Regions from separate parts of the Homo sapiens genome. Here region 1 is linked to region 2. The links come from fine-mapping of genetic effects on gene expression. Tissue or cell type: skeletal muscle. Region 2 holds a variant in brackets; the other region holds the start of a gene. All regions are shown on one strand. Distances are between the middles of the regions.

Evidence for each region. PIP is the estimated chance that this variant, and not a neighbour inherited with it, causes the effect.
Region 1: LZTS3 starts here. The variant in region 2 is fine-mapped to the expression of LZTS3 in skeletal muscle (GTEx, PIP 0.97).

The regions. Positions count from the first base shown.
Region 1 is chr20:3,168,808-3,176,890 of GRCh38, forward strand. It overlaps LZTS3 (leucine zipper tumor suppressor family member 3), which reads right to left and starts at 4,742. Exons shown (of 5, transcript NM_001365618.1): 1 at 4,648-4,742. LOC107985414 (a long non-coding RNA gene) reads left to right here and starts at 4,883. Exons shown (of 2, transcript XR_001754477.2): 1 at 4,883-5,383. RefSeq lists a silencer at 4,626-4,965.
Region 2 is chr20:2,732,472-2,740,573 of GRCh38, forward strand. The region is part of intron 6 of EBF4 (EBF family member 4); the gene reads left to right. Among named protein-coding and RNA genes, the nearest start is that of EBF4, 44 kb to the left of the region's middle. RefSeq lists an enhancer at 6,091-6,672. The variant G/A (reference allele first, on the strand shown) is at 4,736.

The DNA.
Region 1 (8,083 bases), 440 kb after region 2:
CAAGTTAAGGGGCCCACGTGGCACCCTATGGCCCCACAGACCGTCTTCTACCCAGATGCCCAGTTCTAATGCTGAGTCCCTGGCCCAGACCAAGGGCACCTGACAAAACTGTTGTCCTTCGGGAGTCTTCTGGCCCCCACACCAGGAATGAGAGCTCTAGGTTGTTGGAAAGTTCACTACCAAGCCTGTCCACTGTCTCTGTAGAATTCCATTCTCAGCATCTGTCCCCACAGGTGTGGAGAAGAGCACTTCGCCACCCTCCTCCCTTGGACCCGTCTGTCCCCATAAGCAAGGGCCAGGACTAGGATGAGGACAGAGAGCCACGTAGGGCACAAATGAAGGGCACAAACAGCAAGTACACAGCCCTGAGGGTGACAGCCTCCTTCCCTTTGTGCCTTGGGTCCCTCTCTGGCCTCACTCTAGTCCCTGCTCTGCCTCTACTCCCCAGCATACTCCAGCCCCCTATGCCTCAGCCCTGCAACCCCCTCCTACCTTAAGTATGGACCCTTCTCTTGCCACCTCTGGGTGCAATGTGGGGAGCAGCTGGGGACTGGGAGGATGAAGCCTGAAAGGCCTGAGGCTTGGAACCAGTAGGAAGGCCTGGGCAGGGTTTGGGAAAGAACTGGCAAAATTTCATACAGATGAGGTCAGGTGGTGGGGACAAGGGATAATGCTGGACTGGGCACCAGCGTGCGTGTGACACTGTTAACATGATAGGGGGAGACTGCTTGGGGAAAATAGTTGCTTTGGGAAACACCAGAGGAAGATACCTCTCAAGCACTAAATGGAGGCCAAGCAAGGTGGCTCATGCCTGTAATCCCAGCACTTTGGGAGGTCAAGGTGGGCAGATTACTTGAGGCCAAGAGTTCAAGACCATCCTGGCCAAATTGGTGGAACCCCATCTCTACTAAAAATACAAAAATTAGCTGGGTGCGGTATGCATTCCTGTAATCCCAGCTACTTGGGAGGCTGAGGCACGAGAACCCCCTTGAACCCAGGAGGCAGAGGTTGCAGTGAGCTGTAATTGCACCACTGCACTCCAGCCTGGGTGACAGAGCGAGACTCTTTCCTTAAAAAAAAAAAAAAAAAAAAAAAAAGCACTAGATGGAGAGAGATTGAGATCATCAGTTTTCAAGGGTGCTGGGGGTGTAGGCCAGCACTGAGCCAGGGAGCAAAGCCCCAGAAGTCTGGAAGGCACTCTGGGAGCAGGAAGAAGGCCAGGAGAAGGTGGGCCCTGAAGGCCAAGATTGGGGGGATTCAAGAATGTGGGGACAGTTTCCAGTGTTAAAAATAACAGGGCCAGGTAACACTGGGGTTGGAGAGTGTGCTGCGGATTTAGGAGCTGGTCTCGAGACATCACCAATGTCTATGTCAGAATGGTTTCAGAAAAGTGGTACAAGTGCCGGATGCGGTGGCTCACACCTGTAATGCCAGCACTTTGGGAGGCCAAGGCAGGCAAATCACTTGAGGTCAGGAGTTCGAGACCAGCCTGGCCAACGTGGTGAAACCCCGTCTCTACTAAAAATACAAAAAATTAGCTGGGCGTGGTGGTGCGCGCCTGTAATCCCCTACTCAGGAGGCTGAGGTGGGAGAATCACTGGAACCCGGGAGGCAGAAGTTGCAGTAAGCCGAGATCATGCCACTGCACTCCAGCCTGGAAGACAGAGCGAGACTACATCAAAAAAAAAAAAAAAAAAAACAGGTTGGCGCGGTGGCTTACGCTTGTAATCCTAGCACTTAGGGAGGTCCAAGACAGGTGGATCCCCTAAGATCAGGAGTTCGAGACCAGCCTGACCAACAGGGCGAAACCCTGCCTCTACTAAAAATACAAAAAAATTAGCTGGGTGTGGTGGTGCATGCCTGTAATCCCAGCTACTCAGGAGGCTGAGGCGGGAGAATGGCTTGAACCCAGGAGGTGGAGGTTGCAGTGAGCCAAGATCGCACCACTGCACTCCAGCATAGGTGACAGAGCAAGACTCCCTCTCAAACAAATAAACAAAACAGAACAAAAAAAGTGGTACAAAACAAAGGCAGTCCACAAGGCTAGAGGAGTGCAGAGAAAGACATGGCAGAGTTCCTGCTAAAAGAGAAGACAGTTATTTAAGGAGGTTTGAGATTCAAGGGCTTTTTTAATTTTAAAATTAACCATGGTAGAAACCTGTGTGTTAATATGCTGAGGGAAGTTGCCAATAGTGAGATGAAAGATCTAGGCAAGGGGATAGCAAGGTGACTGCACCAGATACCTGGATCTGGGCAGGAATAAACCTCAACAGTGATCATGTTGACCTTGAGTGACAGGGTATAATGTTTGGGAAGGTGCTTTGTAAACTATAAGGGGCAATACAAACATGTAGTACACCTTCTCTGAGATCCGGGAAAGGACAACCTGAGCATAGGTTGGGGCTGGTCATAGGCCACTCTCCCCTACTGTTTCTCTAGAGTGTGTGTAGTCCCTAGCAAGTCTCAGATGCCTCGAGTCGTGGATGGAAACAAGGTCCCAGGACCATTGTCCTGAGCCTCCTTTCTCCGTGCTCTACCTGGGGAATGCTTGACTATCAACCCACAGAAGCTCTCTCTGGAGCCTCACTGCCTAAAGAGCTTCTTGTCGTAATTGTAACCTGTCATGGTTAACCCCTTGCAAGCATGCCCTGCCCCTTGTCTCTCCCAAGCTTTGGCTGCTGCAGCTTCTTTCCACAAAATCCCAGCAGATAGCCGGGCGTCGTGGTGCGTGTCTGTAATCCCAGCTACTCGGGAGGCTGAGGCATGAGAATCGCTTGAACCCAGGAGGTGGAGGTTGCAGTGATATTGCGCCACTGCACTCCAGCAGCCTGGGCAACGGAGTGAGATACCCCCTCAAAAAAAAAAAAAAAAAAATCCCAGCAGGACACCGGCAGGACAAGGAAGGGGATGTTTCCCTGGTAAGCAGGAACTGAACTGAGAGGAAAGGTCACGGTCCTGAACTAGTCCAGGTAACTGAGCATGGTCTGCAAAGGCAGCCTCCTGGCATCAGTGCACCACCCTGAGATGACAGCCTGTTGCCTGACTGCCTCGATCTCTGTCACCTCAGCCCTCAGTGCCTGGGGCATTATACACAGTATTAGCGTCATGAGGGGGCCAAACGGACTCTACCTGACAGTTACATGTACAGGTACCTCCAACCCACCCCTCAACCTGTGTCTCTCCCAAAGCTAGGAACACTTGGGGTCTCAGAGGCCCCAACCCCAGCCCATTCTATCTCCTAAAAATCTCTAGCCAGCCCCTCCATCCAGCACCCCTGCTGGGGGCTCCTCAATGGACTTTCTTCTCCTGCACTCCCTCCCCCAGGCAGCTGCCAGGGGATTCCTTCTAAAGGGCAAAGCTGATCTTGCCCCTGCTCTGTCCAAATCCTTCCATGAGCAAGACCAAGTGCAGTAGACAGAGTTCTGGCAGCATCAGCTCCAAGTGTAAATCCCAGCTTGACTGATTAGGGGTGCAACCTCATGCAGGTTATTTCACCTCGGGTTCTCACACCTACATTGCAGGCATTTTAAGAAGTAAATGTATGATGGGTGAAATGCCTGGTATTCCTCTTGGTCCCCAGAACCAGAGCAGAGCTTGCAGCAGGGTCCCCAAGGACTCTCCTGATGCCCCTCCTCTATCTACCCTGACCTGAGCCCCTCTCTACTTCACACACAAGCTCTTGCCAGCTCTCTGTGCCCATCCTACATGCTTCTAGACCAGTTCAAAGGCTGGCCTCAGGACAGCATCCCTGATCTCCACCCCCCAGAGGGGGCATCTTGGAGCACTTGGCTGAGGACACCCCAGGGAGATTTCACTCTGAGGCCTCCCCAGGGCTGGCCTATAGGTTTCCCAGGAGCACAGAGGGCAGAGTCCTGGGGGTCTCTGGGCCCTGCACCAAGGAAATGCAGGGCAAATGCCTGTGGGAATGCTAGTTATGGGCAATGCAAAGAGGCAGTGAATCCGGGCAGGGAGAGCAGGAGGGGTTTCCAGGAAGCAGGACTGAGGGAGGAAAGGGATCTGGGGGCACTGCAGGGCTTTTGGGGTGCAGAGATATCCAGAACTTCTTGGTTGGGATGAGTGAGGGGAGATCCGTCTTCCCTCGGTGGCCTAAGCACTGGCAGCGGAATGGGCCCATCACCTAGCTACTGGCTCTGATGAAGCCAGTGTTTCAGGACTGAGGGGGCCGAGAGCGCCCCCTCCACCCCGAGCACACACACGCGCGCACACACGAGCTTCTGCTGGGGGTGGGAGGGGGGGTCGCCATTCACCAGCAGCCCACGGCCCGCAGAGCCAACTGATAGAGACCCCAGCCACAGGCCACAGGACCTGGGAGTCCCTGCGATGGGGGAAACCCCGCCCGCACCTCCCCAGGCTCCCCACCAACGCGTGTGGCCCCGGGGGGCGGGGCGCAGAGGGAAGAGGTGACATAATCCGAGCCGCACCCCCTCTGGCCGCCACCTCCCCCCAGGCCGGGCGAAGCATCCATGACATCATCCGCCTCCTCTCCGCTCCCCTCCCCCTTGGGACCCTAGCAGCGGGACGCGCCCCCTACCCAGTCCGGGTCAGGTCAGACATGCCGCGCAGTGCAGCAGGCACGGCGGCAGGTCGGAGCCGGGAGGGATGCCACGATGGGCCTGCCTCACTTACTCGCTGCCTCAGGGTCCGGCGCGGGGTCTCCGACACGGGCGCCACCGGCCCCGCTTGCTGGCGCAGCCCGAAGCACGCCCGGCGGGGCGCGCTGCGCGGGCCCGGCTCCGCTCCGCGCCCCTCCTGCTCCCCGCCCGAGCCCCGCCCACCAGCGGCTGCGGCAAACGCGAGCCCGCCCTCCGGCCACGCCCCCCAGGGCAGCCAATGCCCGGGCTGGGGCGGGGTGAGGCGCCTTAACCCCTTCGTCGCTGCGCCCCGCCCGCGCGTGGGACCCCTCAGCCTCACCCTCTCTAGGGCGCAGCAAGTCCGCCGCGAGCCCCTCTGCTCATCGCTCGTTACCCCCCAGGCCCTTGGGCTTGGGCTCAGGCCCAGTCGTTCCTCTGCAACAAATCCAATGGAACCGCGCCCTCCCTGAATCCCACGTCTAGGAAGAGGAGGAGGAGCCCCTCTTGCTTGGGGGAAGGGGCTCCCGACTCGGAGCCCCGAGCCCCATTCCTCTCCCGCGCCAGCTCTTCGGGACGCGGCCTCCCAGCGGACGCCCTGAGACCTTGCAAGTCCGCTAGGGAGGGGTCGGGACGAGCCGTCGCGGGTGGATCCGCCCGGCCGAGCAACGACCCGCCCGGGCGCGAGGACCACGGGCTGTCGTGCGGGAGGCGTCGAGGGGCAGTAAACTCCGTTCGTGACCAAACGGAGACGATTTGAAACTTGCTGCTCACACTGGATCACCGTCTGGAAGGTGCGACGGGGAAAAAATACACATTACACTCCAGCAGGATTGAACGCTTTCACCCTGTGCCCCGCGCCTGGCGTAACGCGTGGCCCCAGACCACACGCTGTAACCCGGGGTGAGAGGGAGTGAGGTGGGACTTCGTACCGGACCCGGAGCGCCGGCCTCGCCCGCGCGGGCAGCGTTCACTGTGGGGAGTGCTCACTCAGCCTAGGGCGGCCCGGGAGGACTGCCGGGAGGAGGGAGTCGGCCTTGAATTGAGGCCTCAGCCTTGAATAGGGTAGGGAGGCAAGCCTAGCCGAGAGTTTAGCACTAGCAAAAGCCTGGAGGCACCAGGGTCTGCCCTAAGAACTGCAGCGCCTCTGCTCTGGCTGGGATTTAACGCATTACGTCTCTGCTGTTTATAGGTGTTGTGTTTGGTCTTACGACTTCGTATTCTATAGTTTTTATTTATTCCTGTTTTCTGAATTTTCCCACATTTGCTTTTATCTTCTATCGTGATTTTCAAGGCAGAAAGTATTTTTAATTCTTCTCGCGGCTGCCTTTAGATTTATCAAATGAAAATAGTTTACATTTCACACATTAGTAAAGTCAGTGACAAATAATTCGTTTTTATATTCCCCCATGAGAAATTTTGTGTGCTTTTCTGCCTCCTACCTGCCGCCCTCACTACTTATATTTGTCCACTTAATCAGGACGACAGACCTAACTTTTGTTTACACTTTTTTTTTAAGCCACAACATTCTTTTTCAATCCTTGTTTTTGGCTTTTGCCAACTCTGTTTAATTGGTTTCAATGTTACTGCCGGTTTTTTGTGCTCTAATTTTTCTATTCCTCATTTGGACCCATCTCTCACATGACTGGTGATTTCAGGGAGGACTCTGGAATGTTGTATTTCCTAAGCCTTTGCCTTAGGTGAGAATGCCTTTATAATGATTTCCTGTTTATAGGATTCTTGAGTCTCAAGCTTTCCCCCTCAAAACTCTTGTCTTTATTTCATTGTCTTCTGGCACTGAAAATGCAAAGCTGGGTTTGTCTGTTTAAGGTCAGCAGTTTGCTTGGTGCTTGCAAGGGTTTTTCTTTACCCTCAAAAGTCAAACATTTTGCCAGTATAAATCAATATGGGCCTTATCTATTAATTTTCCAGAAACAAAAGAGGTCTTCTTTGTAGCTTAGAAAAGTTTTCTTCCTGTCCATTCTGTGAAAAGATTTGGGTTTTTTTCTTTCCTCTCCTCTAAAACTATCACATTGGATCACCAATGTCAAATAAATCTGTTTGTTTTCTCTGCACCCTGGGAGACTATATCAAGTTTTTCTTCACCATTACGGATTTAATTTTCTTCAGAGCCAAGAGTACTGTTTATTTTCTCCAATAAGACATTTGATTCTGCTTGTTTTATTTTTCTTTCAGCCAATTTCCATTCCACCTCTGTCTTGATCTCAACTTAATCTCTCTTTGTAGTCTCCATTCCTATTTCATAGACTAATGTGGTTTTGCATCTTTAAAAGAACACCAGGAAAATAAGAGAATACTATCTATATCTGACTCTGGTCCAATGCATATGAAAACTTTTTTGTTTTTTTGAGACAGAGTCTCACTTAAAATTTACACAAACTCTAGCATAGTGTGTAACTATTGAATGAATAACTAATGCAATCCCCTTCCTTTCTTTCAGAGCAACTATGAACTAGACTTTTTTTTTTTTTTTTTTTTTTTTTTTTTCTGAAATGGAGTCTCCCTCTGGAATGCAATGGTGCAATCTCAGCCCACTGCAACGTTCGCCTCCTGGGTTCAAGCAATTCTCCTGCCTCAGCCTCCTGAGTAGCTGGGATTACAGGCATGTGCCACCACCACGCCGGGCTAATTTTTGTATTTTTAGTAGAGACGGGGTTTCATTATGTTGGTCAGGCTGGTCTCGAACTCCTGACCTTGAGATCCGCCCGCCTCGGCCTCCCAAAGTGCTGAGATTAGACTATTTGTATCTAGGTTCATCAGTTCAGTGAACTAATCAATACTTTGTTTTGTTTTGTTTTGTTGTTGCTTAAGATGATTTGTCACCTGCTGATTAATGATCACACAAGTTGTTTTTTTTTGAGAGAGTCTTGCTCTGTCACCCAGGCTGGAGTGCAGTGGCATGATCTTGGCTCCCTGCAACCTCCGCCTCCCGGGTTTAAGTGCTTCTTTTGCCTCAGTCTCAGTAGCTGGCATTACAGGCGTGCACCATTACACCCAGCTAATTTTTTGTATTTTTAGTAGAGACAGTGTTTCGCCATGTTGGCCAGGCTGGTCTCGAATTCCTGGCCTCAAGTGATCCACCCTCCTCCACCTTCCAAAGTGCTGGGATTACAGAACTGAGCCACCGTGCCCGGCCCTGAAAACCTTGATAAAGGGGCTCATTTTCTGGGAAATAAAATTACAAGGATAACAAAGATATTAAAAACATCATCCAAGAAATATGTCCAAAAAAGGTTCTGGTGGCCGGCATCGTTGCTCACGCCTATAATCTCAACACTTTAGGAGGCCGAGGCAGGAGGATGGCTTGAGCCCAGGAGTTCAAGACCAGCCTGGACAACATAGGGAGACCCTGTCTCTACAAAAAAATTTAAAAATTGGGCTGGGCATGGTGGCTTACACCTGTAATCCCAGCACTTTGGGAGACCAAGGCAGGTGGATCACCTGAAGTCAGGAGTTTGAGACCAGCCTGGCCA
Region 2 (8,102 bases):
ACTTTTATCATTATAACATGTCCTTCTTTGTCTCTCATAATTTTTATCTTAGTGTCTATTCATAAATTAGTATAGCCACTCCAGCTATCTTTCAGTTAGGGTTCACATGTTATCTCTTTTTCCATCCCTTTATTTTCAAAGCCTTTTGTACATTTGAATTTAAAGTATGTCTCACATAGACAGCATATAGTTGGATTGTGTTGTAGTTTTCTTTTTTAATCCATTCTGCCAATCTCTTCCTTTTAATGAAGCATTTCATCCATTTATATTTAATGTAATTGCTGATAGAACAGGATTTATGTCTGCCATTGTGCTTTGTGTTTTCTTTTTCTTTTATTTTTTCTTTTTCTTATTTTTTTTTGAGACGGAATTATAAAGAGTTCCCATATATCCCCTATCCCCACAAATGTGCAGTTGTCTTTTAAATTAGATAGGAAAACAAAATCATTACAAACAAAAATACATTTATGCTGTCTTTTATGTTTACCTATGTAGTGACTTTTACCAGTGCTCTTTATCTGTTCATGTTAATTCATATTACTGTCTTGTCTTGTTTCATTTCAGACTGAAGGACTCCCTTTAGTATTTCTTGTAGGACAAACCTGTTAGTGATGAATCCTCTCAGTTTTTGTTTATCTGAAAATGTCTCAATTTCTCCTTCATTTTTGAAGTTGATCATTTTAGAAGTTGATAGTTTTGCTGGACATGCAATTTTTTGGTCGATAGTTGTTTTCTTTTAACACAATATATCATCTCACTGCCTTCTGTCCTTCATGGTTTCAGAAGTTATGTGGTGATCTTATTAAGGATTCCTTATATATGACGAGTTACTTCTCTCTCTCTCTCATTGCTTCTCAGATCCTTTCTTTTTCTTTGGCTTTCAAAAGTTTGAGTATGATGTGTCTTTGTATAGATCATACACTTTGTGTTCATACTACTTGGAGTTTACTGAGCTTCTTAAGATGTGCTCAATAATGTTTTTCATTACTGAGCACATTTAGGAAATTTAGGGGCATTTTCTTGAATATTTTTCTGTCCTGTTCCATCTCTACTCTCCTTCTCAGATTCCCATTATACATATACTGGTATGCTTGATGGCTCCCACAGGTCTCTTAAGCTCTGTTCATTTTTCTTCATTCTTTTTTCTTTCTGCTTCTGAGCTAGATAATCTCAATTGGCCTATATTCAAGTATACTGATTTTTTTTCGTCCCACCAAATGAGATATGTTGTTGAGTTCCTCTAGGTCAGGGGTGTCCAATCTTTTGGCTTCCGTGGGCCATATTGGAAGAAGACTTGTCTTGAGCCACACATAAAATACATTAATACTAGCGATAGCTGATGAGAAAAAAAAAAAAAAAGCAAAAACATCTCATAATAAGAAAGTTTACAAATTTGCAGGCTAATTCAAAGCCAACCTGGGCTGCATGTGCCCCGTGGGTCGCAGGTTAGAGAAGCTTGTTCCAGGTATTTTTAAATTTTACTTATTGTTCTTTTCTACTTCAGAATTTCATGGGTTTTTAAAAATATAATTTGAAATCCTTTATTGATTTTTTTGGTGTGACTTCATTCTCATACTTTTCTTGAATTTTTTAGACATAGTTTCCTTTAGTTCTATGAACATATTTATAATTGCTCATTTAAAGTCTTTATCTATGCCAGCTGCAGTGGCTCACTCCTATAATCCCAGCATTTTGGTAGGCAGAGAAGGGCAGATTGCTTGAGCCTAGGAGTTTGAGACCAGCCTGGGCAACATGGTGAAACCCTGTCTCTACAAAAACCTACAAAAATTAGCTGGGCATGGTGGCTCATACCTGTAGTCCCAGCTACTTGGGAACTAAGGTGGGAGGATCACTTGAACCTGGGAGGTCAAGGCTTCAGTGAGCCATGATCACACCACTGCACTTCAGCCTGGGCAACAGAGCAAGACCCTGTTCCAAAAATAAATTAATTAATAAAGTATTTGTCTAAAAATTCTAACCTCTGGGCTTCCTCAGGGATAGTTCCTGTTGGCTGCTTTATTACAATGTATGGGTCTTACTTTCCTGTACCTTGCATGTCTCATAATTGTTTGTTGAAAACTGGACATTTTAATCATATAATGTTGCACTCTGGCAATCAGATCCTCCCTCCCAATTTTGTTCTTATTGCTATTGCTGTTTGTTTGTTTAGTGATTTTCTTGGACTAATTATATAAAGTCTATATTTCCTGTCATGTATAATCACTGAAGTTTCTGCTCTTGGCTTAGTTATCAGGCCATGATTGGACAGGCATTTCTTTAAATGCCTTGAATGCCAATAAGTGTTCAACCCATTGCCAAAAGGTTCTGTATGTGTGTTAAGACATGCCTTCAGTGCTCCAGCGATTTACAACTCTGCCTTGACCTTCACTTCCTGCTTGCTCAGGGCCTTGGGATAAACCAGAGGTGAGAGACCAGGGGCTTTCCATGCCTTTTTTGGGCATGTGCCTCTCCCTGCACATATGCATAGCTTTCTAGATCTCCAGGAATATGTCAGAGCTTTTCAGAGCCCCTGTGAACATCTTATTCCCCACTTTTTCCTTTAAAATATTATGGCCAAACTTTTATTTGCCCCCAACTTGTATTGCTGCCTCATGTAGCTGCAATGTTAAGCAATTGCCGCTGGCTGTTTTCAACAAACACCCTGAAGATAGGGTCTTTCCCACTAAGTAAGTTCTGAATCGGGTCAAATAACAAGTTCTGCAAATAAAGCTGTCAGGGAGTTGCTAGAAAGGTTAAAGAGTGAAAACTGACTGGGAATACAGCTTGTTGAGAGGCTCCAAACCCACTCTACCCCTTCCTATGGTTGCTAGCTTGCTAGTTTTCACAACTACAATAGTGGTTGCAAGGTAGCTGGTCTTCAACAGGGCTGGGGAGTAGGGGATGGGAATAGGGCAAATTAAAACACCACAAAGCTTTCTGTTCTTATTACAACTCAGCCATTTTTCTTGCCTCAATGTTCCTTGAGTTGTTGCACACATGTTGTTAATTTTTAGAGTTCTGAGAAAGTTGATTTTGACCATGTTTGCCAGTGTTCTTGTTTCTTTATGGAAGAATGGATTTTCAGAGGTCTTTACTTAGCAATTCCCAAAGTCCTGTCCCTGTAATTGTTATTTCTTACCTGGGCACAAGTTAAAAGTGCCTTGGGGGCTTTAGTCCAGCATTCATCCAGTCACAGTAATTTTTGACTCTTGAATTCTATCATGAATCAATCAGCACCTGTTGTGGGGCTGGGACTATGATGGATGCTTGGGAGAAGAGAGGCTTAAACAATGATCCCTGCCCTCTGAGAGCTTACAGAGCAGTTGAGGAGACAAATATAATTATGTAAACAACAATTTATAATTTTGAAAAAAATTCGTGTACTTGAAGAAAGGTCAGTAGAGATTATCTATAATTACATAATAATAAGAAGAAATAGAAAACAATGTAAGGCTTGAAGACCACACTATCCAATAGTACTTTCTGCAATGATGAAAATATTCTGTACCAACCAATATGGTAGCCAATAGCCACACATATTTATTGGGCACTTGAACTGTAGCTACCGTGACTGAGGAATTGAATATTTAATTGTGTTTAATTTAAATCAAATTTAAGAAATAACACATGGTTACTGTATCTGACATCACAGCTCTAAGACTTTAAATATTTGCTTGATTGGCCAGGATGACCCTGTGGCAGGGGTAGGGAAACATACCCTCCCATGGGAGGCTCATAGCTCTTCTCTGGCTCCTAGGGATAGATAGAAGCTGGGGGCTATGGATACTCCCTGGCATTTAATTGTGCCTGCTGCCTGGTGGGTGTTGTTCAGTGACACTATTGGAATAGTTTAGGTCCGAGCCACCTGGCAAAGGTAAGCTCTGGTCTACTCTATTGGGGGCAAATTTAGACCCTAGATCAGGCACATTATAAGTGCAATTAGATGAAAGGGGCTGTGGGAACTGCAAAAGAATCAGCCCCCTTCCTAATCCACTGGTCAATGCAACATTCCCTGTTTTCCTCTACAGCCACAAAACTAGCCCAATGTCATCCATCTCCTTCCACGCTTTCCAGCAGGATCTCCCACACTCATGCTGCAAGCACAGACTTCTGTCCAGATCCATTCTGGCAATCCCCCTTGAGGTTCCAGAACCTCCCTGCTGGGTCAGTGCTGAGGTGAGACTAAGGTTTCCCTCTTGCCACCTGAATGCACTGCACTTCCTTCCCCATTCCCCCCAACCCCCACCACTCTTTTCAGAGCTGAGAGCATTTGAGAGAGGGAGAAGCAGAGGGGGTTCAAGAGAGATTCGCTCATGTGCTCCGAAGGTCATATAGGCTGAGATGCCAGTCATAAGGACAAAGGACCCCTAATGAAGAGGAAGGACTTATGAGGAGACCTCTGGGCAGCCGAAGCCAAGCTTAGGGCCAGACTGGCCTCCATGCTGAGACAGGAGCAGAGATTTGGACAGTGCCTCCATAGAAAATTGGGGGAAGAGGACCGGGCGCGGTGGCTCACGCTTGTAATCCCAGCACTTTGGGAGGCCAAGGTGGGCAGATCACAAGGTCAGGAGATGGAGACCATCCTGGCTAACACGGTGAAACCCCGTCTCTACTAAAAATACCAAAAAATTAGCCGGGCGTGGTGGCGGGCGCCTGTAGTCCCAGCTACTCGGGAGGCTGAGGCAGGAGAATGGCGTGAACCCGGGAGGCGGAGCTTGCAGTGAGCCGAGATCGC[G/A]CCACTGCACTCCAGCTTGGGTAACAGGAGCGAAACTCCGTCTCAAAAAAAAAAAAAAAGAAAAGAAAAGAAGATTGGGGGAAGAGGGGGACCGCAGGCATGAGGCAGCCTGGGAACCATAATAGGTGGAGTGGAGGCGGCTAGTGAGTGAACCGCCTGCAACTTGAATAATAAGCTTTCTCCACAAAGTGGAGAGTTATTGAGGGCTGGGGACTCAAGCCAACCTGGGATGTCTGGCTATGTAACTGGGAGCAAGTTCTCACCTCCCAGAGCTTCAGTTCCCTAATGTGTAAAATAGAGCTGACCAATGAGCCTCCTGTGATTCTGGGAAGGAGAGGATGCTGTGGAGTTAGTAGGATGTATTCATGCAGTGCCCAGCACAGTGACTGCCTCAGAGTCATTTCTTACCCTCCTGCCACCCCACCCTTACCGATCATCTTAGAGTAAGTGCAGCTGAGCCTGGACGGCAGCAAGAAAGTTCAGGCCGGGCGCAGTGGCTCACACCTGTAATCCCAGCACTTTGGGAGGCCGAGGTGGGCGGATCACTTAAGGTCGGGACTTTGAGACCAGCCTGGCCAACATGGTGAAACCCCGTCTCTACTAAAAATGTGAAAAAAAAAAAAAAAATGGCACCTGTAGTCCCAGCTACTCAGGAGGCTGAGGCAGGAGAATCACTTGAACCCAGGAGGCAGAGGTTGCAGTGAGCCGAGATCGCGCCATTGCACTCCAGCCTGGGCAACAGAGCGAGACTCCATTTCAAAAAAAAAAAAAAAAGTTCAGTGGGAACCAAGGAGGAACGTCCTGCCTCCAGAACCAGAGCCCACAGTCAGGGGTAGACATCCCAGGCTGGGGATGGGTCTTTCTCTGAATAGGAAGGGGGACATTCTCACTTAATCTTCTGTCTGTTCTCTCTGCCCTGGGTGCTTGGTGAATTGTAGAAGATGCCAGGCCTTGCTAATACCCGCTACCCACCTCTCACCTGATTCATAGATAAGAGGTGCCAAGGTCTCTGGTCTTAGAGCCTGGGTCTCATCTACACCACCACCTCTGCCCAAGGCCAGAGGAACCCACAACTTCTTTCCTTCAGACTCCCACCTTCTCCTTTAAATCTCTTTCTGACTTGCAAGCACCCCTTCCAGCTCTGTGGCTTCTGCTGCCGTCCATGCCCCATCCCCCCTCCTCCCTCCTTTTTCTCTATCTCTCCTTCTCTTCTGTTCGTGGACTCTGATAGCCTGCATTGACAGAAGACTCCCCAGGCTTGAGAGGACTTGTGTGGGTGCATGTGTACATCTGTGTCCACACAGGCACACCATGGTGACCATGCACCAGCCCCTTCCTGCCGCTGCATGTGGCATGCCCAGAGGCCTCCCATTAGTGGCCACTCCACCCTTCCTCCTCTCCCCTCAGGCCTGGTTTGGGGAAAGTGGAGCCACTGCCACTCTTGGTGGGCAGCTGGGGGCCCCTTAGCAGTCTCTCCACACCCCCTCCCCTTCTCCTCAGGCCCCATGCCCAGCCCTGAGGTTTGGAGAGCCTAGTAAGTGCCCTATCAACATGTTAATCAAATTACTTAGGAGCTAAAATTGACGCTGTTCATTAATTATACAAGATTATGCTAATTGTGCATGCAAATGCATGCAGGGGAACAGAAGGTGTTCAGGCGCATGGTGGGCCATTAGCATAGAGGATGGGGTGCGGGTGCATTGGCATGCTAATGTATGCGCCCTGGCTATTTATAGTCCTCCAGCCCATCTGCACTGCAGCCACCTCTACCCGGGTGGGGATCATGGTGGGGAGGCCAGGTCCAGGCCTGGCAGGTGGCTGTGGCCCTGGGGACAGTCTATCTTGGCTTCTACCGCAGGCTAAGACCAGGAAGCAGCCTGGGCCAACCCCACATGGGCCTGAACTATTACAGTAAGCTCCTCATTTCCCTTCCCTTCTCTAGCGTAGGCCCTTTGGTGCCTGTTTCTGCCTGAAGGGAGACATCCCCTGTAGCCTTCCCATCACCCAGAGGATCCAAGTCCCGCATGATTTGGTCCCAACCCCAGGCCCCAAGCCACGCTGCCCTCCTCAGTCTTGTCAGGCACCACTGATCGAGTGAGCCGTCTGCCCCGTGGTGGAGCTGTTAGTCCCTTTGCATGGAGGGCCCTGCCTCCTACTTCTCGGTGAGATCCTCCAAGACCCATCACCCAAGACCAAATTGGAGCTCTAGGAAGCATTCCGCCTCCCCTAGGCAAAATAAGTGGCCACTGCAGATTACACTTGGCACATCCTCCTGCCGTGCCCACCACTCTGTCTTCCTGAGTTTCTCTTTCCTGTTGGGTTGTAATTTCCTTAAGATTTTATACAATGCCGCAGTGCCTAACACATAGAAGGTATTTAATAAATCTTTTTAAGTGGGTGTATGGAATGAATGAGGGGATGAATGGCCCAGCCCTCTGTGTCCTCCTCTGTCCCTGAGCTGAGGGTAGAGAGAAGCAGACAGTGAACACGCTGGAGAGCCAGAAACTGCTTCAGTTTCTTCGGAGGCTCATGGGAGCCCAAGACAAATCTTTTAGGATAAAAATTAGCGGAGATCCCTGTCCCCTTATTTCCCCATCTCAGGCTGCAGTGCCAGCTTTGGGCTTGGAAACACATATCCAATTTAATCTACCCTTCACTCTTAACCTGCTGTCTTTCCCAAGGCCTTCACAGGACACACTGTTGTTTGGAACATCCTGCCCCAGCTCGTATATCCATTCACTGCATACCTTCTTTCTAGATCTGCACTGTCCAATATGGTAGTCTCGAGCCACATGTGACTATTTAGATTTATGTTCATTAAAATGGCTGGGCGCAGTGGCCCACGCCTGTAATTCCAGCACTTTGGGAGGCCAAGGCGGGTGGATCACCAGAGGTCAGGAGTTCATGACCAGCCTGACCAATATGGTGAAACGCTGTCTCTACTAAAAATACAAAAATTAGCTGGGCATGGTGGCAGTCGCCTTTAGTCCCAGCTACTCAGGAGGCTGAGGCGGGAGAATCGCTTGAACCCAGGAGGTGGAGGTTGCAGTGAGCCGAGATCACGCCACTGCACTCCAGCCTGGGCAACAGAGCGAGACTCCGTTTCAAAAAAAAAATAGATTTATGTTAATTAAAATGAAATAAAATTCAGTTCCTCAGTTGCACTAGCCACATTTCCAGTGCTTAGTAGCCATGCGTGGCTAATGCATATCATTCTGGAAAAAGTTCCCTTAGGGAGCACTGTAATCTAGACACGTTCTTCCTTGCCCCTGACAGACCTGTAGTGGAAAATGCACTCGGGCTCTCCTTCCAGCTCTTTGAGTTACTGACAGCTTTCTCTTTGGAAGTGAGAACATAATTTCAGCCC